Linked DNA regions of Homo sapiens. The protein of the gene in region 3 interacts with the protein of the main gene of each other region in a biochemical or structural test. Each region holds a gene or a part of one and is shown on either strand. Other genes may lie near its edges.

Evidence for each region.
Region 1: the proteins of GRID2IP (region 3) and CRB2 interact in a test that uses a peptide from one of them, tested with the Homo sapiens proteins (one large-scale study listed by IntAct).
Region 2: the proteins of GRID2IP (region 3) and SLCO1B1 interact in a test that uses a peptide from one of them, tested with the Homo sapiens proteins (one large-scale study listed by IntAct).
Region 4: the proteins of GRID2IP (region 3) and AKAP10 interact in a test that uses a peptide from one of them, tested with the Homo sapiens proteins (one large-scale study listed by IntAct).
Region 5: the proteins of GRID2IP (region 3) and TMEM151B interact in a test that uses a peptide from one of them, tested with the Homo sapiens proteins (one large-scale study listed by IntAct).
Region 6: the proteins of GRID2IP (region 3) and SLCO2B1 interact in a test that uses a peptide from one of them, tested with the Homo sapiens proteins (one large-scale study listed by IntAct).
Region 7: the proteins of GRID2IP (region 3) and SLC2A7 interact in a test that uses a peptide from one of them, tested with the Homo sapiens proteins (one large-scale study listed by IntAct).

The regions. Positions count from the first base shown.
Region 1 is NC_000009.12:123,362,697-123,366,196, reverse strand, and holds part of CRB2 (protein crumbs homolog 2 precursor), read right to left. Parts: intron 3,333-3,500; coding exon 3,009-3,332; intron 281-3,008; coding exon 85-280; intron 1-84. UniProt on the Homo sapiens protein: Apical polarity protein that plays a central role during the epithelial-to-mesenchymal transition (EMT) at gastrulation, when newly specified mesodermal cells move inside the embryo.
Region 2 is NC_000012.12:21,129,836-21,133,993, forward strand, and holds the start of SLCO1B1 (solute carrier organic anion transporter family member 1B1), read left to right. Parts: upstream 1-1,358; 5' UTR 1,359-1,401; intron 1,402-4,158. UniProt on the Homo sapiens protein: Mediates the Na(+)-independent uptake of organic anions.
Region 3 is NC_000007.14:6,506,462-6,509,961, reverse strand, and holds part of GRID2IP (delphilin), read left to right. Parts: intron 1-648; coding exon 649-1,004; exon of another isoform or gene 1,005-1,056; intron 1,057-1,560; coding exon 1,561-1,977; intron 1,978-3,500.
Region 4 is NC_000017.11:19,953,829-19,957,328, reverse strand, and holds part of AKAP10 (A-kinase anchor protein 10, mitochondrial isoform 1 precursor), read left to right. Parts: intron 1-3,500. UniProt on the Homo sapiens protein: Differentially targeted protein that binds to type I and II regulatory subunits of protein kinase A and anchors them to the mitochondria or the plasma membrane.
Region 5 is NC_000006.12:44,273,450-44,276,696, reverse strand, and holds part of TMEM151B (transmembrane protein 151B), read right to left. Parts: coding exon 3,191-3,247; intron 1,295-3,190; coding exon 170-1,294; 3' UTR 1-169.
Region 6 is NC_000011.10:75,149,782-75,153,906, reverse strand, and holds the start of SLCO2B1 (solute carrier organic anion transporter family member 2B1), read right to left. Parts: upstream 2,801-4,125; 5' UTR 2,526-2,800; coding exon 2,510-2,525; intron 1-2,509. UniProt on the Homo sapiens protein: Mediates the Na(+)-independent transport of steroid sulfate conjugates and other specific organic anions.
Region 7 is NC_000001.11:9,009,424-9,012,923, reverse strand, and holds part of SLC2A7 (solute carrier family 2, facilitated glucose transporter member 7), read left to right. Parts: intron 1-2,679; coding exon 2,680-2,781; intron 2,782-3,500. UniProt on the Homo sapiens protein: Probable sugar transporter. Even if its physiological substrate is subject to discussion, it is able to transport glucose and fructose. Does not transport galactose, 2-deoxy-d-glucose and xylose.

The DNA.
Region 1 (3,500 bases), on a different chromosome or scaffold from region 3:
CGCGCCTGCCCCTTCTGCCCCGCGCCTGGCCTCCCCGCCCTCGGGCACCCGGCGCCCCTGCCGCCTGCCCCGCCGCTCGCTCACCCGTTGACCAGGTCGTGGCACGTGCCCCCATGTGCGCACGGCTGGCTCTGGCACTCGTCGAGGTCCAGCTGGCAACGGGTGCCCCCGTAGCCTGGCGCGCACACACAGCGGAAGGAGCCCACGCCGTCCAGGCACGAGCCCCCGTGCAGGCAGGGCGCTGAGGCGCACTCGTCCACCTCCATCTCGCAGGTCACGCCTGGACAGGGCAGGGGACACACAGGGTGCAGGATGGACACCCAGAGCAGGGCGGAAGAGGTCGCGCCAGGCCTGCTCCAGAGTTAGAGACTCGTGGATTCATTCATTCAGAGCCGGATGGTGGTGGTGGTGGTTGGGGGGTGGGGGACGGGTCATGCCAGCAACCGCAGGGAGAGAAACGAGACAGACAGCCCTGCCTTCATGGGGCTCACAGCAGTCTAGGCCAGGACATGGTGGGGGGTGATTCAGCCAGTAATTACCTAAATGAGCTAGGTGATGTTGCCAAGTTCAACAAGGAAAGGGGTTGGGTCTTGGGAAAGCAATAGCCGGGGTCTGCTCTGTTCAGGGAAGGCTTCCTAGAAGAAGAGGCTTTTGAAGGATTCAGATAGGGGACTGTGGGCAGCAGTTGGATTCCAAAGAGACTGCAGCAAGAGGCAAGTTCCACTAGGGGCAGGGCCATGATGCCCTAGGCGGGGTTATTGGAGGGTTGGAAGCAAGGGAGAGGGTGGCGGAGGTGAGTCGGGTGGGAGGTGTCAGTGCCTTGGGGACCAGGTAACCTCTGGGTCCATCCTGAAAGTTTCAGACAGGTAAGTGACTTGGTCCCACCTACATTTTAGTTAGTTGTTTTGGGTTTGTTTTTGTTTTTTATTTTTTTGAGACAGAGTCTCACTCTGTCGCCCAGGCTGGAGTGCAGTGCTGCAATCTTAGCCCACTGCAATCTCTGCCCACTGGGTTCAAGTGATTCTTGTGCCTCAGATTGCAGAGTAGCTGGGATTACAGGTGCATGCCACCTCACCCGGCTAATTTTTGTATTTTTTTGTAGAAAAGGCGTTTCACCATGTTGGCCAGGTTGGTCTCCAACTCCTGGCCTCAAGTGATCCACCCACCTCAGCCTCCCGAAGTGCTGGGATTACAGGCGTGAGCCACCACACCTGGCCCTACCTACTTTTTAGAAGGTCCACTCTGGTGGCTTTCAGATCCCAGAGAGGCAGGAGATGCTTGAGTAGGGTAATCACTCCTCCCAGTGTCCCTGCACTGTCCTGGTTTTAGAACTGAAAGTACCAAGTCCCCAGAACCCTCGCAGTCCTGGGCGAATCACGACAGCTGAGTGGCTCTCCCAGGGTGATGGTGAAGAGGAAGGGAGATGGGGAGTCCCAGGGTTTCAGATACGCTGCCTGAGATCATCCTGGACTCACGTGTCACTGTAGACTCCAGCAGGCCCTGCCCCCTAAGTGGGTTTGGTCAAGCGGGGGCCAGAGGCCCAGCTGACTCCAGCTGGAACCCTCCCCCTTCTCAGTTCATTGAGCACAAAACATGGCCCCACCTTCCCATGACCCTTCCCTCCTCCCTCCCCATCCCCACTCCCACCCTCTGTGCCAGGGGGAGCCAGGCCTTGTCTGGAAATCCCAAACTCCCCCACCCGGCTTGGAATGGAAAGAGGAGAGAATGAGTCACGGCAGATGCTGCCCCCACTCACATCCACAGCTTACCCAGGAAGAGTCACCCGAAGTGTGTGAGTGCTACACATCCGGATGCACAACCCACTGCCCGCACAACCCACTGCCCGCACAACCCACTGCCCACACAACCCACTGCCCGAACAACCCACTGCCCACACATGCACTCAGACTGCAGACACCCCCAGGTACTGGCAGATCTTTACAGATGCAAAACAGAACTTGGAACTAGGAGACACATGGACGAATGTGACCTGCACTGGCATGTACACTAATACACCCAGACGCTGAGACACTGGAACGATGAGAAAGATGCATGGAACCAGCTTCCCAAATCTCTCTTCATCAGCTGCCATCTCTTCGCTGTAGGCCCCCTGCCCTGGAACCCAGCCCCCCAATCTGTACCTCTTGCTCTGAAGTGACTTCAAACTGCCCTCTGCCCTCAGAGTACAGTTGTCTGAATTCAGGATTGAAGTAGGATCCAGAGCATCTACACTGCAGACTCAGACTCTGCCCTGGACTCAGCTTCGCTCCCAGACTGCGCCCCTTCTGTCCCCAGCTGCGCCCTCCTTCCCGACTTCAGGCCTCTCTGGGAAGCCGCTCCAGGATGTTCTCGGCTCAGACCATGGGTGGGCCTGGGACGGGCCACACTCTGGAGAAGGTACCCTTAGTGCCAGTCACTTTTCTGAGCACTTACGTATATATTATCCCACTCCAGACAGCAGCGATCCCTGGGGTATGTCAACACTACAGTTTGAACGAGACCTTGTATGTCTATGCTAGAACTCTGGGGGAGACCCAGAGGCCAGGGGTCCACATTGCACTCCAGACCACATCAGGAGTGTTCAAATGAGCTGATGGTGACTGTCGTGTAGACAGTGTCTACATGACAGCTTGGCACAGGCCTGAAGTGCTAGAAAGACTATCTGGGCATCCTCACTAAAGTCACGCCAGGCAGGTTCACACTGCCAGAGATGAATGAGGGGTATTCCACCCCCGCAGCCAAACTGAACTCTAGGCTGGACTGAAATCACATTTACCGAGTGCCTGAGATGCGCCACACACCACGCCAGCACCCGCACATACATACTCTCACCCAGAGCTGCCAGGCATCAGTTCTGTAGTCAGACCAAGTGGATATACCCTAGAGCTGCCCGGATGCCTGGGGGCGTCCCTACACGAAAGGCAAAGCTGAAGCCATGATGCTTACACTCTGAGCAGCTGATGCGATCTGCATTACAGACCTCCTCCCAGGGCGGCCCAGGCTGTTACCTGCATAGCCAAGGGGGCAATGGCACTCGTAGCGATCGGCCAGGTTGCGGCAGGTGGCCCCATGGTGGCACGGCCGGGATGCACACTCATCGATGTCCAGCTCGCAGCGTGGGCCCTGGAAACCCGGCACGCAGTAGCAGCGGAAGCCGGTGGGATCTGGACCCTGGGGCACACACAGAGCGCCGTGGTGGCATGGCTGGGTGGCACAGCCCCGGGGCTCCATGGGCCCACAGGTATAGCCACCACTCTCGGTAGCCTGGCACTCGGTCCCTGGAGCGCACGGGTCTGAGGCACAGGCACTGGGGGGCTCTGAAGGCACCGTCCCTGTAGAAAGAAGAAACTGGCTGGGCAGGGTGGGCAGAGGTTACAAGGACAATCTCCTCCCCACCCTCTCAGGCCCACCCCAGACCCCAAAAGCAACGTGGGTCTCTGCATGCACAGTATGGACAGAGGGCCAGGGGTCTGCAAGCCAGGTCCCAGTAAGCTGCACAC
Region 2 (4,158 bases), on a different chromosome or scaffold from region 3:
TGTGTTTTCAATGAAATGGATGTCTGAGGAGAAAACCATTAGCCTGAGAAAACCCAAACTGTATTCCCATTGTGAATAAAAGGAAGTCCATAAAAATGATGGAAAATGTTCTGCATTCCTGTTATGATATCAAAATCTGGCAGTACATGAAAATTTTTCAAAGTGCTTATTTAACAGGCATAATCTTTGGTCTCCTGAGCCAGAATCTGCTGGGTATGGGACTGGATTGCTATTTTGACAACTCGCCAGTAGATTCTTACTCAGCAGAGTATTTGGAAGCCTTACTCTAATATTTTGGCCTTGGGTCTACATTTCTCAGTTCTGCACAGTCATTCTTCCCCTCTACACTACTCTTTAGTTTGTCTCATGATTCCAATACTCTCAATAATTAACCAAGAATAGAACTAATCAATCAGATAACTGTGGCACAGACATCAAATACATTTTGCTGCAACCATATCAACAAATGTCCCATGAATGATAAGGGGTAACCATATTCTCATATATGCATCCTCACATTACCACATATATATATGTGCATATGTGTATACAGGTAAAAGTGTGTATATATGTATACATGTATGTTTGTGTGTATATACATACATATATCTTCACACTTTTCTGAAATATATATATTTATGTGAGAGAAGGGTCTGTACTTTATTTCAGAAGAGAGCTTAATGTCCAAGGTATAATTGAGAGTCTAAAATGTTTGAGTTATTGAATTAATTAAACTTCATCTCTACTCAAGAAAACTTTTAACTGAGTTAAGCTCTTCCTTTCTCCACAAGTCAAGTCAATAAAAGGAAACTGTGATATTAATAATTCTTTCCTGTTTTGATGTAAAGAATCTATCGCATAAAGCAGTCTTAATTTTCATCATTCAGAAAAATGGTCTTGCAGTTAATTGGGACTCTCTTATTCCAGGTGGTATCTCCAGTCTCCATACATACCACGTTAGAACCATACTTATGTACCAAGCAAAGAGGGTATATTTTAATTTTTAAATGCCAATGTAACCTGTAGGCATATTTTTTATTTGTCTTAAATTATTTCCTATTTGGAAGTTTTAAATACCTGGAATAATTTATTGTACTCATATTTTTAAAGAAAAAAATCTTATGCCACCAACTTAATTGAATAAACAAGTAAAAGCCATTCCCAAAAGTAAGGTTTACTTGTTAAGATTAACAAAAAATAATGTGAGAATTCTGAGAAATATAATCTTTAAATATTGGCAACTGGAGTGAACTCTTAAAACTAACTAGGTTTTATATGTTTGACTAGAGCAATGACATAATAAGGTGGTTAATCATCACTGGACTTGTTTTCAAAAAGCCAACTACTTTAAGAGGAATAAAGGGTGGACTTGTTGCAGTTGCTGTAGGATTCTAAATCCAGGTAAGAACCATTGAGATTCTCTAATTTTTACATATATTTTATGTAAGAAATTTTCACGGAAGAAGATTTTGATGGTCTTGAAAAATATTACGAATTTTATGCTCTGTGTCTTCCACACGCTTACATTCTGAGCCCTTAAAACATAGTAAATATTCCTTCTGGGAGTAGAAGAGCCTCAGGTTTATATACTGTTAAAAATAAAGTAGAGAAAATAATACCTTTATATATTTAAATATAAAGTTTCAAATCTTGGTCTTATTAATTTCCAAACAAATAAAAATCAAGTCTCAAAAATGAAGCTCTAGTTACCTTCTTAAAATATGCTACAGGATAATTATTTTTGTCAACTACATTGACTGATCACACTAGACTCCTTATTTCTTTGATGTCTTCTTAACTGGATGAAGGCAGCCAAGGGTGGGAGTAGAGGGAAGAGTTAATTGGCAAACATAAAAAACAGGTGTCTCAAAGTCACATAACCACCTCAGTTTCCTTGTTTCAACTCAAGTTTGATACAGGGTGAAGGGAAATATATTTTCTAGATAATTTATCTCCAATTAAATAAGCAAAAAGTCTTCTCAGTACAGTTTTTTTCTTTTTTTATTTCATTATTATTATACTTTAAGTTTTAGGGTACATGTGCACAACATGCAGGTTTGTTACATATGTATACATGTGCCATGTTGGTGTGCTGCACCCATTAACTCATCATTTAACATTGGGCATATCTCCTAATGCTATCCCTCCCCTCTCCCCCACCCCACAACAGTCCCCGGTGTGTGATGTTCCCTTTCCTGTGTCCATGTGTTCTCATTGTTCAGTTCCCACCTATGAGTGAGAACATGCGGTGTTTGGTTTTTTGTCCTTGCGATAGTTTGTTGAGAATGATGGTTTCCAGTTTCATCCATGTCCCTACAAAGGACATAAACTCATCATTTTTATGGCTGCATAGTATTCCATGGTGTATGTGTGCCACATTTTCTTAATCCACTCTATCGTTGTTGGACATTTAGGTTGGTTCCAAGTCTTTGCTACTGTGAATAGTGCCGCTATAAACATACGTGTGCATGTGTCTTTATAGCAGCATGATTTATAATCCCTTGGGTATATATCCACTTATGGGATGGCTGGGTCAAATGGTATTTCCAGTTCTAGATCCCTGAGGAATCGCCACACTGTCTTCCACAATGGTTGAACTAGTTTACAGTCCCACCAACAGTGTAAAAGTGTTCCTATTTCTCCACATCCTCTCCAGCACCTGTTGTTTCCTGACTTTTTAATGATCGCTATTCTAACTGGTGTGAGATAGTATCTCATTGTGGTTTTGATTTGCATTTCTCTGATGGCCAGTGATGATGAGCATTTTTTCACGTGTTTTTTGGCTGCATAAATGTCTTCTGTTGAGAAGTGTCTGTTCATGTCCTTCACCCACTTCTTGATGGGGTCGTTTGTCTTTTGTAAATTTGTTTGAGTTCATTGTAGATTTTGGGTATTAGCCTTTTGTCAGATGAGTAGGTTGCAAAAATTTTCTCCCATTCTGTAGGTTGCCTGTTCACTCTGATGGTAGTTTCTTTTGCTGTGCAGAAGCTCTTTAGTTTAATTATATCTCATTTGTCATTTTTGGCTTTTGTTGCCATTGCTTTTGGTGTTTTAGACATGAAGTCCTTGCCCATGCCTATGTCCTGAATGGTATTGCCTAGGTTTTCTTCTAGGGTTTTTATGGTTTTAGGTCTAACATTTAAGTCTTTAATCCATCTTGAATTAATTTTTGTGTAAGGTGTAAGGAAGGGATCCAGTTTCAGCTTTCTACATATGGCTTGCCAGTTTTCCCAGCATCATTTATTAAATAGGGAATCCTTTCCCCATTGCTTGTTTTTCTCAGGTTTGTCAAAGATCAGATAGTTGTAGATATGCGGCACTATTTCTGAGGGCTCTGTTCTGTTCCATTGGTCTATATCTCTGTTTTGGTACCAGTACCATGCTGTTTTGGTTACTGTAGCCTTGTAGTATAGTTTGAAGTCAGGTAGGGTGATGCCTCCAGCTTTGTTCTTTTCGCTTAGGATTGACTTGGTATGCGGGCTCTTTTTTGGTTCCATATGAACTTTAAAGTAGTTTTTTCCAATTCTGTGAAGAAAGTCATTGGTAGCTTGATGGGGATGGCATTGAATCTATAAATTACCTTGGACAGTATGGCCATTTTCATGATATTGATTCTTCCTGCCCATGAGCATGGAATGTTCTTCTATTTGTTCGTATCCTCTTTTATTTCATTGAGCAGTGGTTTGTAGTTCTCCTTGAAGAGGTCCTTCACATCCCTTGTAAGTTGGATTCCTAGGTATTTTATTCTCTTTGAAGCAATTGTGAATGGGAGTTCACTCATGATTTGGCTCTCTGTTTGTCTGTTATTGGTGTATAAGAATGCTTGTGATTTTTATACATTGATTTTGTATTCTGAGACTTTGCTGAAGTTGCTTATCAACTTGAGGAAATTTTGGGCTGAGATGATGGGGTTTTCTAGATATACAATCATGTGATCTGCAAACAGGGACAATTTGACTTCCTCTTTTCCTAATTGAATACCCTTTATTTTCTTCTCCTGCCTGATTGCCCTGGCCAGAACTTCCAACATTATGTTGAATAGGAGCAGTGAGAGAGGGCATCCCTGTCTTGTGCCCGTTTTCAAAGGGAATGCTTCCAGTTTTTGCCCATTCAGTATCATATTGGCTGCAGGTTTGTCATAGATAGCTCTTATTATTT
Region 3 (3,500 bases):
AACTCCTCAAGAGGCTGAGGCGGGAGGATCACTTGAGCCCAGGAGTTCAAGGCTGCAGTGAGCTATTTCGAACCACTGCACTCTAGCCTATAAGCAACAGAGTAAGACCCTGTCTTAAAAAAGAAAAAGAAAGAAGGCAGATGCCTGATTCTGAGGAAGTCCCCGAGTTAGCAAGTGGTTATTGGATAAATGATCAAGTGCAACGCGTTGTACCAGCGTTGGCACAGCTGGGAAGACAGTTGCTCTGCAGCTCAGAAGGCAGGAGCCCTGGGAGGCCCTCCTGTGATCTCAGGGCTTGCTGGGTGCGCGAGACGCTCCATGACTGTGGCTCTGGGCCCTAGAGAAACCCCTCCACCCTTTGAGTTAATGGTGTTCAGTGGCTCCCAGCTGGGACCCCTGGTGACCATTCCAAGGTGAGCTGGCGTCCAGCCTGTCCTGAGGCCGAGCAGTGCTCCTGCTCACCAGATCTGGCCTTTAGTCATGCTTGGAAGGCAGGGCCGCTCAAGGTCTTCCTGCACTGTGCCCAGAGAGGGAAAGGAGAGTGGCCTGGGACACAGAGCCAGTCTGTCCTAGGACCCTCTCTCCAGCTTGCACCTGGAACCTCGGTGCTGGCTGAAGAGGAATCCTCATACTCCATCCCTCCTCCAGGGCCCAGGACCCTGTCCGGCGTCTCATGGCCCAGCGAGCGACTCTTGCCCTCCCCCTGCTACCACCCGCTGTGTTCGGGGGGTCTGGCCTCCCCCAGCAGCTCTGAGTCCCACCCCTACGCCAGCCTGGACAGCAGCAGGGCACCCTCCCCACAGCCAGGCCCCGGGCCCATCTGCCCCGACAGCCCCCCAAGCCCGGACCCCACCCGCCCGCCCAGCCGCAGGAAGCTCTTCACCTTCTCCCACCCTGTGCGAAGCCGCGATACTGACCGCTTCCTGGACGTGCTGAGCGAGCAGCTGGGCCCCCGGGTCACCATCGTGGATGATTTCCTGACCCCGGAGAACGACTACGAGGAGGTGGGCACGCAAGCAGGTGTGGAGGGAGGCGGGTGAGGCGAGGTGTGGCGGTCTGCAAGGCAACAGTGTTCCTGGGCTCCCGCAAGGGGCCTGCTGCCCTTGGGATCTTCCCCAGGCTATCCCACTCCCTAGCTCAAGCTATCCCACCCCTTGCCCCAGGTTACCCTATCTCCTGTTCAAGGTTATCATGCTCCTTGACTGAGGCTAGCCCATATTCCCTGTCGCAGGTTAGCCCATTCCTTAGCTCAGGCTATCCCACTCACAGCCTGAGGCTAACCCGTGACAGGGTCCTGTCCTTATTCCAGGCTATCCCCCTCACAGCCTGAGGCTTACCCATGAGAGGGTCCTATCCTTAGCCCAGGCTATCCCCCTCACAGCCTGAGGTTAACCTGTGAGACAGTCCTATCCTTAGCCCAGGTGTCCCTCACAGCCTGAGGCTAACCCGTGAGATGGCCCTGTCCTTGTCCCAGGCTATCCCATGATCCTTCACTTTGCACCTGCTCTAGTCTCTCTGGGCCCAGCCTCACCCTCCCCTTGCCTCTCTCCCCACCACCAGATGAGCTTCCATGATGACCAGGGCAGCTTCGTAACCAATGAGCGGAGCAGCGCCAGCGACTGCATCAGCAGCAGTGAAGAAGGCAGCTCCCTGACCTACTCCTCCATCTCTGACCACATCCCCCCACCCCCGCTCAGCCCCCCACCACCGCCACCCCTGCCTTTCCATGACGCTAAGCCCAGCTCCCGCAGCTCTGATGGTTCCCGGGGCCCTGCTCAGGCGCTGGCCAAGCCCCTCACCCAACTCAGCCACCCAGTCCCTCCACCACCCCCACCGCCCCTGCCCCCACCCGTGCCCTGTGCACCCCCCATGCTGTCCCGGGGCCTGGGCCACCGGCGCAGTGAGACCAGCCACATGAGCGTCAAGCGCTTGCGGTGGGAACAGGTGGAGAACTCAGAAGGCACCATCTGGGGTCAGGTAGGTGACCTGGGACCCAGCAGCGCTCTGTACTGGGGGAGGATGGCTTGGGCAGCAGCACTGAAGGAAAACCCATCGGCCAGGCATCTTCCAACATCATCCTCCCTACCCCAAGCAGAGGATGAGTAGAGGCCCAGCCCAAGAACGTCCCCACGCTTGGGGGCCACTGCAGGCATTGAAGCCAATCTGTGTCCCTCAGCCAAAGACACACACTGGGGACACCTGGAAATGCCACCCTACCCATCCTTGAAACCTATCACTTTTGAGGCCAGACAAGTTCTCTTAAACCTTTAAAAGAGCAGCTGGTTCAAACTCCTGCACACCAGCCTTCACCCTTTCACTTTGATGCTTGAAGTTCCTCCCTCACAACACTGGCAGTGTATGCTTGAACACCTTCAGTGGTGGGGAACTCACTACCTGTCAAGGTCTTCCTTTCCTCACTGGACGATTTTAACCATCCTTTGTCTTGCTCTGAAATCTTGTCTCCCCAGGATTCCCATGCCCTGTTTTCTTTCTGGCCCTTAAAATCGGGCAGAGCAATCTTATCCACAGACCAACCAATCTGCAAGATGAACAAGGTTCACCCCACCCCTTTTTTTTTTTTTCAGATCATTCTCTTAGAACATGGTTTCCAACCCCCACTCCAGTGTCCATGTCCCTGTCAAAGAGACATTCCCAGATGGAACCCCCAATGGGGCTTGACCAGCTCAGAGGAGAGAACAGGGTTCTCAGCTCCTTTGACTGGGACATCATACTCCTTTTAATATGGCAGGGGCTCCTTCCAGCTCCCAGGGCTGCCCCGTCCCAGTGCTCATGATCACCATCATCCTCAACTCCATCTTCTTGGGATCAATAGCTCACTCTCACATGTAGTCACACTGGGCAGAGGCATGCTTGTGATTTTTCCCCACTGCCATCTCCTGGGTCCCAATTCTGTCTCCTGCTTTCTCAGCCCACATCTCCAGGGACCCTTTCCAAGTTGCTAATAAAGATGCCCATTGAGGCCAGGCTTGGTGGTTCACGCCTGTAATCCCAGCACTTTGGGAGGCTGAGGCGGGAGGACTGCTTGAGCCTAAGAGTTCAAGACAAGTCTGGGCAACATAGTGAGATCTTGTCTCTACAAAAAAATCAAAAAGTTAGCCAGACCTGGTGGTGCATGCCTGTGGTCCCAGCTACTCGGGAGGCTGAAGAGGGAGAATCACTTGATTCCCACAGGTGGAGGTTGCAGTGAGCCAAGATGGCACCACTGCACTCCAGCCTGGGGTACAGAGTGAGACCCTATCTAAAAAAAAAAAAAAAAAAATACCTCAGTGAGACAAGGGCACAAATAAGGACCTCCTGGGTCCCCTGGAGACCTCACTCCTGCCAGCCTTGGACCGATCTTCAAGTATTGCTCCACAGCGTGGTTCTTCCATTGGTTACCAAAGGTGGACACAGGGACACAGGTCACACATGTGGCCAAACCCAAATCCATCCTCAGTGTCCCTGCCCTGCAGCCATGTTCTAAGACTTCATTCCCCTGC
Region 4 (3,500 bases), on a different chromosome or scaffold from region 3:
ACTTTGTGATCCGCCTGCCTCGGCCTCCCAAAGTGCTGGGATTACAGGCATGAGCCACCGCGCCCGGACTGATTATCTTATTTACACATGAGAAAACCAGGGCTTAGAAAGGTTAGGTAACTTCCTCTAGGTTGTACAGTAAATGTGGACCTAGAAGCATTTTGACAAGAGCACCTGTTTTTTTTTCTTCTCTATTAGTTTAGAAATTATATACTCTTAATTATCACCTGGGATTTTGATTAGACAGCCTTCATGTTCTTTTTCATCTTAAATGTTCTTTGTGTCTTAAAGGGCTAAGTGATTTCTTCAGATCTTTTAGTTCACTCATTCTCAGTGAACTAAAATGAGGTCTAATCTGCTACTGAATCAAGTTTTCAGCATGTTATTTCCTTCCTCCCTCCCTCCCTCCTTCCTTCCCTCAACCAGGCTCCCGAGGAGCTGGGATTACAGGCGCCCGCCACCACTCCTGGCTAATTTTTATATTTTAGTAGAGACGGGGTTTCACCATGTTGGTCAGGCTGATCTTGAACTCCTGACCTCAAGTGACCCACCTGCCTCGGCCTCCCAAAGTGCTGGGATTACAGGCATGAATCACCACACCTGACGGCATGTTATTTTCATCGCAAAGTTACTGTAAGCTGGGAGAAGTGGCACACACTTGTACTCCCAGCTACTCAGGAAGCTTAAGGTGAGAAGATTGCTTGAGCCCAGGAGTTTTGAGACCAACCTGGGCAACACAGCAAGACCCCAGCTCAAACAAAGAAAAAAAGTTATTGAATTTTTTATTTCTATGGATCATTTTTTGTAGTTTCTTATTCCTTTCACCCTTCATTCCCACTTTTGATCCCATCTTTTATTTATTTAGTTTTATTAAATGTATATTTGTCTGATAATTCTGCTATCTACAGTTTTTTGTGGACCTGACTCAGCATTTCTTTGTTTCTTCGGATTCAGACTGTTGGTGGCTTGTGATTTTAGTGATTTTTGGCCGTGAACATGTTTCTTGGACTTTTGTCTGTGGGAATTCTCTGTGTACTCTGTATAAATTAAGTTACTTCAGGTGTTTTGCATTTTCTTTTGCCATGCACCTGGGGCCTGGGTCACTACCCTTCTGGTACCACTTAAAACTGAATTTTTGTCTTGGGTGCTCGTACTGATCCTGTATGAGTACAGGTTTATACTTACTGTAGAAATATGGTGTTTGATTATGGGGTATTGTCCCAGATGGTGCTGGAGTATTAATATGCTCTCTGTTAAACTTAATGTGTTGTCCCTGTAAAACTCCAAAATTCTGAATTCCAGAATACTACTGGCCCCAAATGTTTAAGATAAGGGCACTGCCTGTATTTGTTTCTGCCTCCCACTATTTTCCTTAGTTTAACACAAACTCACCTTTTTAAAAAACATTTTGAGAGAATTCAGTATTGGGAAGAGTTTCTAACCTGTTTCTGGAAATGGAAGTCCAAAGTCTGTTTCTGTAATTGTTTTTTTTTTGAGATGGAGTCTCACTCTGTCACCCAGGCTGGAGTGCAATGACGTACTCTCAGCTCACTGCAACCTCCACCTCCCGGGTTCAAGCGATTCTCTTGCCTCAGCCCCCTGAGTAGCTGGGATTACAGGTGCCCACCACCATGCCTGGCTGATTTTTGTATTTTTAGAAGAGATGGGGTTTCGCCATGTTGGCCAGGCTGGTCTTGAACTCCTGACTTTGTGATCTGCCCACCTCAGCCTCCCAAAGTGCTAGGATTATGTTTCTGTAATTGTAATACATTTATTGTTTTTAGAAACTGTCTTTGCTTTAGTGGTAATTTTCAATAAAAATAGAAATAGCAGTGGAGTTATTAAAAGAGCATTAGTTACATTTTTCCCTTTTTCATTATCTTCAAATATTATATATAGTAAGTTTGACCTTTTTAAAATGTATACTTGTATCAGTTTTAACACATACATAGATTCCTGTAACTGTCACCACTATAAGGGTAAAGAACAGTTAGTTCCTTCACCTTTGAAGTCAAGCCCCACCTCTATCCCAACACTTGGCAACCGCTGATCTTTCTCCGTCTCAATAGCTTTGCCTTTTCTCTTTTTTTTTCTTATTTTTTTTTTTGAGACAGCGTCTTGCTCTGTCGCCCGAGCTGGAGTGCAGTGAGGCAATCTCGGCTCACTGCAACCTCCGCCTCCTGGGTTCAAGCAGTTCTCCTGCCTTAGCCTCCCTAGTAGCTGGGATTATAGGCACGCACCACCACACCCGGCTGATTTTTTTGTATTTTTAGTAGAAATGGGGTTTCACCATGTTGGCCAGGCTGGTCTCAAACTCTTGACCTCAAGTGATCCACCTGCCTCGGCCTCCCAAAGTGCTGGGATTACAGGCGTGAGCCACTGTGCCCAATCAGGACTTTTTTTTTTTAAATTTACATTCAACTTGTCATTTTTTTCTTGTATGGATTGTGCCTTCAGAGTCACACCTAAGAGCCCTTTGCCTAAGCAAAGGTCATGAAGATTTTCTCATATGTTTCCTTTTAAAAGTATTGTGGTTGGCCAGGTGCCATGGCTTATGCCTGTAATCTCAGCACTTTGAGAAGCTGAGGTGGGCAGATTACGAGGTCAGGAGATCGAGACCATCCTGGCTAATGCGGTGAAACCCCATCTCTACTAAAAATACAAAAAAAAAAAAAAATTAGCCGGGCGTGGTGGCGGGCACCTGTAGTCCCAGCTACTTGAGAGGTTGAGGCAGGAGAATAGTGTGAACCCGGGAGGTGGAGCTTGCAGTGAGCCGAGATCGCGCCACTGCACTCCAGCCTGGGCAACACAGTGAGACTCCATCTCAAAAAAAAAAAAAAAGTATTATGGTTTTACACTTTACGTTTAGATATATATCTTTTTTGAGTTAATGTCGTATAAGTATGAGGGTTACGTCAGATTTTTTGTTTTTTGTTTATTTTTACATATGGATGTCTAGTTGTTCTAATACCATTTGTTGAAAAGACAACCTTTACTCCATTGAATTGCCTTTGTACTTTTGCCATATTTGTCTAGGCCTGTTTTTGGACTCCTTTTTCTGTTTCATGATGTGTGTGTCTATTCCTTTGTTAATACCACATGGTCTTAATTACTGTATAGTAAGTCTTAAAATTGGGTAATGCTGGCCTTATAAAACGAATTGGGAAGTTTTTATTTTTACTCTTATTTCCATTTTCTAGAAGAGATTGTGTAGAATTGGTGTCATTTCTTCTTTAGATATTTGGTTGAATTGGGAAGTGATGCCATCTGGGCCTAGGGTTTTGTTTTTTGTGTGTGAGACAGAGTCTCACTTCTGTCACCCAGGTTGGAGTGCAGTGGTGAGATCTTGGCTTACTGCAACCTCTGCCTCCCAGGTTCAAGTTATCCTCCTGCCTCAGCCTCCCAAATAGCTGGGATTACAAGCGTGTGCCACCATGCCCGACTAATTTTTGTATTTTTAATGCAGACAGGGTTTCACCATGTTAGCCAAGCTGGTCTCG
Region 5 (3,247 bases), on a different chromosome or scaffold from region 3:
GACAGCGGGGGTCTCGGCCCCATCCGGGCCTGTCTTGCGGCCCTCACCTCCCTTTCCCTGCCCCCCGCGCGGCCTCAGTCACCGTGGTGACTCGCCCTGCGTCGCAGAGGGAGCACAGTCCGGCGAGGGGCAGGCGGGAGGACGGCGCGGGCCACTCCGGGGCCGGAGGTCACAGTGAGGTCTCTACGCAGGAGCCGTGGCGGTGCAGCGGCCGGTGGCTGTGGCCCAGACACCCCTCCTGCCGGTGGACGATGAGGACCGGAAAGTAGAGGGCGTCGTGGTAGGGCGGCGGCGGCCCGGCCTCCTCCTCGTCGTCGTCCTCGTCGTCCCCCATGCTGGCCTGGCTGGACAGCCGCGTCTGCTCCGTGGGGCAGCTGGCCTCGTTGACGCTCCCGCTGCGGCTGCGCCACAGGCAGCTGCGCCGGGAGCCGTAGAGACGGCCCAGCGAGAAGCGGCTGCCCCCGCAGCCCGCGCCCCCACCGGGCCCCGGGCCGGCCCGCGGGCTGGCGCAGATGCTTAGGGCGCTGCGCGAGAAGATAGACGAGCTGCTGACGGCGCGCTGGCAGTGCTCGCAGCTGCGCCGGTAGGGAGCCACGCCCGCCGCGCCCGGGCCGCCTACCCCACCGTAGCGGCACGAGGGCGCGTAGCCGCCGCCTGCCCCGCCGCAGCGCGTCCCGAGCCCCGCCAGGTCCATGAGCACCGCCTCAGAGTAGCTGGGCACCAGCTGCTGGTTGGAGCGGATGTGCCACTCGAGCTCCGTGCTGTCTACTGTGTTGACCCGCGGCAGGCGGTGGGTGAGCGGGGGCAGCAGCTCATCGCTGGGGCTGAGGCCACCGCCTGCGCTGCTGGCCGAGCCCGGGCCCTCCAGGCCAAATAGCTTCTCCACGTGGTAGTGCGCGTAGGCCGTGCGGTACTCGGCCAGCACTCGCAGCGGCCACGACAGCGTGAGCAGCGCCGCGGCCCAGAAGGCCGACGAGCAGGCGTACCAGGGCGGCCGGGCCGGGTCCGGGAAGGCCACCATGAACTCACGGAAGTCCACGTTCTTGAGGTGCATGCCCTCGCGTGCCTCCATGTAGTCGTCTAGGCCCTCGTTCTCTGCGAAGAAGCGCGCGCGCTGGCACAGGTACGCGTTCTCGGCCTCCACGCTGGCGAAACTGAAGCACTTGGTGAAGCGCAGCCGCGTGGCCGGCGCGCCCTCCAGCCCCACCAGCGTCTTGGACACGTCGCGAACGCCGCAGCGCGCGTAGTCGAACTCAGCCTCCGCCACGTGCGTGTTGACGCGTTCGTGGTAGACCTGCGGCGCGGGGGGCAGGCGGCGGGGTCGCGGGGAGCCCGTCATTGGTGCCCGCTTCTGCCCACTCACCCTTTCCCGCCCCATCTGTGCTCTGGTTGCCTGGTCGGACCCTAAGTCTGTCTTGGTTTAGGTGCCGGCTGGAGCTGGTTAGGATCTTTCCGTCTGACTTACAGGGCAACTGACGCCCTCTGTGTAATCAGACGTGATGACCGGACTAGAACCAGCCCTACCTGTGCGCATTTAAATTTTTTTTCTTTTTCTTTTTCTTTTTTTTTTTTTTTTTTTGAGATGGAGTCTGGCTCTGTCGCCCAGGCTGGAGTGCAGTGGCGCCATCTCGGCTCACTGCAAGCTCCGCCTCCCGGGTTCATGCCATGCTCCCGCCTCAGCCTCCCGAGTAGCTGGGACTACAGGCGCCCACTACCACGCCAGGCTAATTTTTTGTGTTTTTAGTAGAGACGGGGTTTCACTATGTTGGCCAGAATGGTCTCGATCTCTTGACCTCGTGATCCACCCGCCTCGGCCTCCCAAAGTGCTGGGACTACAGGCATGAGCCACCGCCCCCGGCCGCGCATTTAAATTTTAACTAAGCCCTGCTTCCTCTAGGGGTCAGGCCCTGGCCATGAACTGCCCCTCTGGCCTGCCTGATCCATTTGCCACTGCCTCTGTTTTCCAAAGTGCCCCCACATCACCACAAACAGCCTCCTCTTCTTCTTTCTTCCCTTTTACAATTGTGTTTCCCAATGGGTTCCCCAGAAGCACTCCCTAAAGAACCCCTCTATCTCTAGTCTGCCTGTTCACGCTGTAGCTATCATCAGCCTCCTTCCTGCTTCTCACCCGCCCCAGGCTTCTGTCTATTGATCCTTATACTGAGACAGATGGCCTGCATCTGGGAACGTCTCCTCCAGGACCCCAATATGTCTCATCCTGGCGAGTCCACAAAGTGCTGATTGACCTGCCCACCCTCAGTGAGACTTCCTACGCCCACCTCCTCTTAGACCCTTGAACTTGACATCCAGGAAGCTGGGATTGAGCCTAGCACTACCACTTAAGAGCAGCAGACTTTGGACAAGTCACTGAGTTTAGGTGTCCATACCTGTGAAAGAACTCAGTAGCAGTCACCTCACTGAACAGGTAAGAGCATGCTATGATACTGGGCATGTGAAGCCATCTCCAGCCATTAAGCACTATTTTTATTTTTATTTTTTTTTTTGAGATGGGGTCTTGCACTGTGGCAATCACAGCTCACTACAGCCTCAACTGCCCAGGCTCAAGCGATTCTCCCACCTCAGTTTCCTGAGTAGCCGGGACTACAGGTGCATACCACCACACCAGCTACTTCTTTTTATTATTTATAGAGATGGGGTCTTACTATGTTGCTGCCGGGTGGGCTGGTCTCAAACTCCTGGCTCAAGAGATCCTTCTGCCTCACCAAAGTGCTGAGGTTACAGGCCTGAGCCACCACACTCTGCCATTAATCACTAAGTAGATCCATTAAGCACTAAACAGTATAGAGATCCTGGAGCCAGATTGATTGAGTTCAAGTCTCATCTCCACCACATACTGCCTATTTGACCTTAGACACATTACTTAAACTCTCCAGGCCTCAGTTTCCTCATCTGCAAAATGGGAATACCTGCCTACATCATAGGGTTGTTATGAGGGTTAAATAAATGATTTGATGTGTGTAAAATACTTAGAGCAGAGCCTGGCTCCTGGTCGGTTTTTGCTGTTATGATTATGGTTGTTGCTATTGCCCTGCTGTTGCAATGCTCATGGGAGCTCACTGCTGCCTTTTGCTCCTCCCACCTTCCCCCCAGGGAGGTGGGGAGGGAGTGAGGCAGCACGTAAGTGCCACCTCCCATGTTGAATGTCCTGCACTCCCCACCAGCTCCTCACCTGGGTGGTGGTATAGGCGTCTCCATTGCGGTATCTGGTGACCTGGCGGGTGCGGCG
Region 6 (4,125 bases), on a different chromosome or scaffold from region 3:
GGGTTATAATGAATGTTCCCAGGACACAGATTCTCTGGGCCACTGAAGCAGGGCCACTTCCTCCTCAGATACTTTCTATAGCTCCCAATTGCCTTTAAGAAAAAGTCCATGTGCCTAACCTGGCATACAAGTTCCTTGTGACTGGGCCCCATCAACTTCTTTGGCTTAACTTCCCAAGATGTTGCCCAGTGACCCCCGCTCCTCCAACGGTACTGGGCAGCTCACTAGCTCCACAGACATGCAGGTGTAGTCACTTTTCTAAGCATTTGCAGTGCTATCTCCTTCCCTGGCCATGCTCACCCTGTGTGGGATTGGTGGAAGGGAAGAGAAACCACAAGGGCAATGGCACGGAGAGGAAGAGCTCTGGTACCAGGCAGACCTGGGGGCTGGCCTCCACTCTGCTGTTTACTTTGGGGTGAGCTTGGACCTTGCTTGCCCCCTCTGAGCATCAGTTTCTCACCTATTGAAAAGGGGAAGGACATTTCACTGAGTTCTCTTAAAGCCAGTGATGCAGTGCTGGAATTTGAACCTGGGACTGCTGGTTCTTTCCCTCGCCCCACCTGTCTGCCCTAGAATGGCTTACATTTGAACACAGTTGGGCTGGAGAGAGGAAGAGCAACACCGGAAACAAGGAGGGATGAACCTCAAAGAGAAGGTCATCAAACAGCATATGGGAGAGGTTACCCCCAGCTGGAAGAATCTGGAACGGCTTCCTGGAGGAGTTGGCATTTGGAAGAGTTGGAAAACAGGGCAAATGTCACCAGAATGGGATGTGGGCAGGGGCTTCCTGAGCAAAGGTGAACAGGTGGGAAGATGAAATCTCTGAGTCAGACTGTGTGTGTGTGAATGGCTGCCCCAGCACTTGCAGGGAAACTGCTGCCTAAGGGGTATGTGGTGAGTGGGTGGAGGGGCTCTGCTGGAGCCGGATCTGAACTTCACTCCTCTCTGGTGTCTGCCCTGACTGGGACAGCTTCCCCTCTCCCTTGGGGACTCTTCCCAGGCTGCAGGCTCTGTGTCCTACCCCACCCACATTCCCACACCCCTCAGAGTAGTGTGGTGAGCCTGGCCACAGCCCAGAATGGGTCTCGGGAAGCAAGGCTAGAGATGGCACCCAATGGCCCACCAGGCAGATGCTGGGGTCAGCTTCCTGCTGTCTGTGTGGAAGGTCAGTGGGCACCTGGAGAATATTCCAGAGCTGGGCCCTGCAGGGGTCAGAAAAATAGTACTGGGGGGACTTGTGGGGAGGTGTAGTGCAGCCAAAGTCTCTAGTTAGTTCCCACACTCCCCGCTCTCCATCCCTCCCATCCATACTGAGCCAAGGCTGATGGGGAATTTGGTTTGTCAATGGCCCATTCACACCGCCCCCCCAACCATCCCACCCAAATCTGACCTCATTCTCATCTGTCCTGTGAGGTGCCCCGAGAGGAGGCATCCATCCCACCCTTCCTGCCGTACTGCAGTCCCCAAGCCATGGCTGCGTTCTCCTGGAGTCCCTGCAGCTGCTCCTCAGCTGGGTCTGTCTCCATGGCCTATGAAGCTCTCCCTGCTGGGCTTCTGGGAGCAAGTGGGGCCTTGCCCAAATGGCTGTGAGGCTCACACAGCCCAGGGGAGGATCAACAGCTGGGAAAGAGGCCAAAGGTGACTGCTATAGGGCGTCTAACCTGGAGTACTCCCAGTAGAAAGATCCTTTGTTTCTTCTACCCATACTGCCTTCCCAGAAAGTGTTGGGCCAGGTGCTCTGTTCCCAGAAACACTGCCCTCGCTACAAGGCGATTCCTTGTCACCCTGCAGGCAGAGCTTCAAGACCTTTTTCCTCCAGCCTCCTCCCCACTCTATAGTAAGAGACCTCACTGCACAGAGACCCATGCAGGTCTCTGCAGGTCACTCTCAATCTCCTGGTCTTCTGGGTGGATCTTCTGATGCTGCCTGCAGGTCTGTCTGTAGCTCTCCGTCACCTGTCCCCGTCTGATTCTCTTTCCTGCTCTGTCTCCTGCCTCTTTGTCTCTCCCAGTCTCTGCTGCAGCCCTCTCTCCCGGTTTGACCTCCCTACCTTTCCCTGCATTCTCTCGCTGATACCTGTTGATATTGTGTTCTCCGACCTCCTGTGTGCCTCTTCGTTTGAGCCTGCCTGTCTGCACTGTCTGACTACACTTTTCTCTTTTTCTCTGCTCTGTCTGTCTCTATCTTTGTCTCCTTTGAGAGGGGAAACGGCTTGAAGAGGGGGTCAGGGGCCTGTCTTTCTGTTGTCCTCTAAGTCTCGGTCTCATCAACGAGGTTTGGCTGGGTTCCCTGGCTCCAGCTGAGTAAATCGTGTCCCTTCCTGCTCCTCCAGTCATTCACTCATTCATTTAACACACCTTCACTGAACTCCGGCCATGTGCCTGGCTCTGTGCCAACAGCTGTGAGCACCCATCCCACCCACTCTGGCTCTACGGCCTCACCCTTTTCTCTGGGAACATGTCCCCCAGGCTTGCTCTCCATGGCCCTTCCTTAATTTGTTCGGACTTACCTATCCTGGGTCCCATGACTGCTGGAGTGCAGTGAGCTCCAGCCCCTAATTTAATCTCAGGACCTGGAGCTTAGCAGGGGAGAGGAAGCAAATCTTCTCAGGGGCTCCTGGAGACAGCAGCAGGTGAGCCACAGCAGGGATGCAATAACGGTGGGAGCTCCAGACACGGGGTCAGTTCTTCTTGGGCCACACAGGACATCAGACTTGTCCAGACACAGGTTAGGGAGTCTTGCTCAAACTCAGCCCCAAGTATCTCCAAGTGTTTGTCTCCCTGGGTCACTTGCTCCTTCTGTCTCTCCCTTGCCCTGGCTCCACGGTTGTATAGAAGGCTGGGTTTGTTCAAGTCCAGCCTCTCTGTGAAGAGGAAGCTGCACCCCGCCTCCCTGAGGCTCAGCCTCAGCCTGTCCTTTTCCAGCCTCTTGCCTCAGCATTTCCCTTAGGTATTTTCCCCTGCTCTGTTAGCAGCAGAGAGGTGGGGGCACAGGGGGGATGCTGATGGGTCTCCCCAAGCTCCCCAACCTTCCACATTCATCCCCCAGTCTCCTCACTGCACTCCCATTTCCCACCTGAGCCCTTCTCCTACCAAGCTCTTGTTCCCTTCACAGAACTTTTGTTGCCCTCCCTTGATAGGAGGGCCCCATAGAGAGCCCTTGTTCCCCCATCTAGCAGTTGTCCTCTTTCACTGAACCCCTGTCCCCCTCAAGCCCACGTGCCCTCTCACTAAATCCCTCATCTTCTCCCTGAGCTCCAAGGATCCACAGCAAGAAGGGGCTCTGTCCACTAAGTATCCAGTGGCAGCCTGCCTGGGTGGAGCTCATGGTAGAAGGTCCATCAATTTCAGCCATCTAGGCAAAGGAGGAGGGGAAGAGAATGGAAAATATGAAATTCTCAGAGTTTCCTGGACTGAGGACTGAGGATGGAGGTTCAGGAGCCAGAGAGATCTGGGTCCCACCTCAGTTGTTATTTGCTGGTCAAGTGATCTCAGGCAAGTCCCAGCATCTCCCTGAGCGTCCATTCTCTCATCTATAAAGAAGGGACAGTAATCCCTTGCAGAGCCACTGTGAAGGTTCGGTGAAGGACAGAGAAGCCAAGCCTGCAGGCCTGGAGCTCAGAGAAGGGAGTGGCAGAGGTGGGGCTCCGAACAGGGCAGCAAGGGAAAGCAAATCCACTTTGCCTTTCCCAGCTTGCACAGCACTTTCACACACAAGGCCCCACTGGGTCCTCCCCTTGACACTGTAACATCAGGTTATTTATTCCCTGATTTTACAAATGAGGCATGGAGTCTCAGTAACTTGCCAGAGATCACCCAGCTAGTAGGTGGTGGGTGCCTTGAACCTCTAATGATAGAACCAGGCTTTTCCCTCCACCCAGGATATCTTCTCTGAGGAAGATCTGGGTTTCCCCAAATCCAAGATGCAGAAGTGAACCTGACCCTGTCTCTGGAATAAAGTCTTTGCGTGGAATGAGGATGTGGGTTTGGAGTCTAACTTTCAGGGTGCAATAACAGAGAAACATACACCAGCTCCACTTGGCTCCTATTTGCTGTATGAGGGTGCTAGTAGGATGTAGGGAATGTGTGAAATAATCACAGATCTCCCTGGCACTCAGGAGGCACT
Region 7 (3,500 bases), on a different chromosome or scaffold from region 3:
AGAGTGAGACTCTGTCTCAAAAACAACAACAACAACAAAGAAAAACCTTCAGATCCAAGTTTCTTCCTTTGTAAAAATCATTATGGTGACTGCAATACATGGTATTCAAATGCAGGTACCCCTTTTTGTTGGTGCAGTTTCATGATTTCAGAGTTTAGTATTTAAAGTCTGAGCTACTTACGCTTTGATATATATGTTGCATGAAAAAGGGTCAGATGATCATGGCATTCCTTTCCCTAGACCATTTTCAAGTTATCTCCTGATTATTTTGATTCCTATTTCTTGAGTTGCCAGTGATGGTAAACATTTTCAAGAAAGTTATCTATTATTTGTATTTTCCCCAGAGCTAGTTTAAGTTCCAGTAAACTCTCAGAAGGTTTAGAAGGGCAGGGAGGGAGAAGTTAAGGAAAACAGTGGGAGAGGCTGACAGGAAAATTAAGGGAAGAGGACAGAGGTCCCCAGGCTGAAGTCTCAACCCCTTCCTCCTGCTGGATTTCTGTGGCCCCATCCCCAGTTTTCCCCTGGGGCAGGATCCATCCTTTATCCTCAGAGTCCTCCTCCTTGGGGATAAATGACCATAACTAGGACCTGCTTCACCATCATCCTACCTGGAGCAACCCAAGCCAGAAAAATACCCTTTCCCTCTCCCTGGAGGAACAGCATCTGGGAACCAGGCATACAGCAGGAAATTGACAGTATTTCCCTGATTTTTGGGGTGCACTTCGCTCCCATCCTGAATGGCAGTGATAGTCTGTCTGTTGGGATGTTGGGAGGACATGAGTCAGCTAACATGAGTCAAGGGGCTGTACAGGGCCGGCTCTGGTCAGCCATTAGGGATGGAGTAGAATGGAAATGGTATTAGAAGTAGAAAAGGAGCCAGGTGTGGTGGCTCATGCCTGTAATTCCTGCACTTTGGGAGGTTGAGGCGGGCGGATCACCTGACGTCAGGAGTTCGAGACCAGCCTGGCCAACATGGTGAAACCCCATCTGTACTGAAAATACAAAAATTAGCCGGGCGTGATAGCACATGCCTGTAATCCCAGCTACTCGGGAGACTGAGGCAGGAGAATTGCTTGTACCCGGGAGGCGGAGGTTGCAGTGAGCCACGGTTGCACCACAGCACTCCAGCCTGGGTGACAGAGTGAGACTCCACCAAAAAAAAAAAAAAAAAAAAAAAGAAGAAGAAGAAGAAGTAGAAAAGGAAGGAAGAAGTCGAAAGAATGCTGATCACAGGGAGTGTGGCCTGGGCTTGGTTGTTGGAGAAGGAGCTGGCTGAGTGGAGGGGTCAGTCCATCAGGTGGAAAAGTGGAGAGATGAGGGGCCCCGCATGATGTGAGCCCAGATTCCAGATGGCCTCAATGTCGAGTGGAGCCCCAGAGAATAGGAGGGGGCTATTTTTATTCTTATTCTTTTTATTTATTTATTTTTTAAACATAGAGACAGGGTCTTACTATGTTGACCCGGCTGGTTTCGAACTCCTGAGCTCAATCAATCCTCCTGTCTCGGCCTCCCAAAGCGCTGAGATTACAGGTGTGAGCCACTGTGCCCAGCCCAGGGGCTATTTTTAAATGTAGGTTTTATTCTTATTCAGGTATGGTGAGGCCAACAGATCAGGAGGTGGCTACTGCTGGAAAGACAGTTTGTTCCTCACAGATCCCATGAGGAGGGTGCGGTCCACGCCATTCCGGGCCTGCGGGGAAGCCCCAGGGTTGGTCAGGAAGCAGAGGCATGAAGGGGAAGTGTGAGGATGAACCTTTACTGTGGTTCCCACAGAAAGGAATGGGTGAGGCAGAGCGAGCAGGTTTAGGAGTAGCTGGTGTGAATAATTTCCTCAGGGTCGGGGACCACAGGGGCTGTGCCAGCTGTCTGGCCCCTGGCCCCCAGGGTGTTAGGGCAGGTGATGCTGGCCTTGCGTGTGAAAGCTCAGCAAAGGAAGACCTGGGGTGTGGGCCTGCATTGTTGGTTTGCAGATGAAAGAGGCACTCACTCCCAGACAGCGGTTTGTTTGCTATCAGTGGGGTGGGAAGGGCAGTCCCTCCAGGGCCATAAAGGTCCCAAGATGTCAAAGCATCAAACACAGAAACTAGAAAATGTGGTTATTCTAGTGGGTAGCAAGGGGTGCAGGGAGCCAAGATCCAGGAGGTCTGGAAATGAATGACCAGAACAAGGAAGGGTGGTGGTGAAGAGCATGAATGTCTGACCCATGTCAAATCAGCGGCCTGCATCCCACATGCAGGCAGCAGGGGTAAGAAAGGGGCACCTAAAAGGTGACGCACGGTGGCTCACGCCTGTAATCCCAGCACTTTGGGAGGCCGAGGCAGGAGGATCACTTGAGGCCAGGAGTTCGAGACCAGCCTGGCCAACATGGTGAAACCTCGTCTCTACGAGAAATACAAAACTTAGCCGGGCATGGTGGCAGGTGCCTGTAATCCCAGCTACTTGGGAGCTGAGGTAGGAGAATCACTTGAACCTGGGAGGCAGAGGTTGCAGTGAGCTGAGATCGCACCACTGCACTCCAGCCTGGGCAGCAAGAGCAAAACTCCGTTTAAAAAAAAAGAAAGAAAGACAAAAGAAAGAAAGGGGCACCTAAGAGGGGCCCACAAAAGGAAGTGGAGGCTCGGCCCAAGAACCGTGGGCGCCAGGCCAAGGCGGCTTCTCACTGTCCCCCTTCCCCTCCAGGCTGTCCTTGTGGAGCGGCTGGGACGGCGGCACCTCCTGCTGGCCGGCTACGGCATCTGCGGCTCTGCCTGCCTGGTGCTGACGGTGGTGCTCCTATTCCAGGTCTGACCTCATTTCCTGCCCCCTGGGTGGGGAGTCATGGGGAGGGTGGGAGGTCCCCTGACTGAACCGGGCCCGCTGCACCAAGTGGTTGGTTCTGAGTCCCACTGATGGCATGCATCCTGCCTGGAAAAGTACTTTGCAATGCCCCATCCTGAAGTGAATGTCACAGATGGCTTCATTTACCTACACCTGCACATGCAAATAAGTAACCGGATAGATGGTCCAGCTGTCATGGGAAAGAGAAACAAGGAGGACAGTTTGCAATAAAATATGTGCTTCAATGCGTAAATGCAAGGATGCCACCGCATTAGAAAACATCTATGGGCGGTGAACAGGTGTGGGTTAAGGAAAGACCAGAAGTCACCCCATTCGAGAGGTAGAAGGAGGCTGAGCACAGTGGCTCACTCCTGCAATCCTAGCACTTTGGGAGGCCAAGGCAGGAGGACCCATTGAGCCCAGGAGCTCAAGACCAGTCTGAACAACATGGTGAGACCCCATCTCTACAAAAAATACAAAACGTTTTCTGGGTGTGGTGGTGTGCACCTGTAGTCCCAGCTACTCAGGAAGCTGAGGTGGGAGGATCACCTGAGCCTGGGAGGTCAAGGCTGCAGTGAGCCATGATCGCACCATTGTACTCCAGCCTGGGGGACAGTGAGACCCTGTCTCAAAAAAGAAAAAACAAAACAAAACTACGAATCATTTTTCAGTAAGACTAAAAC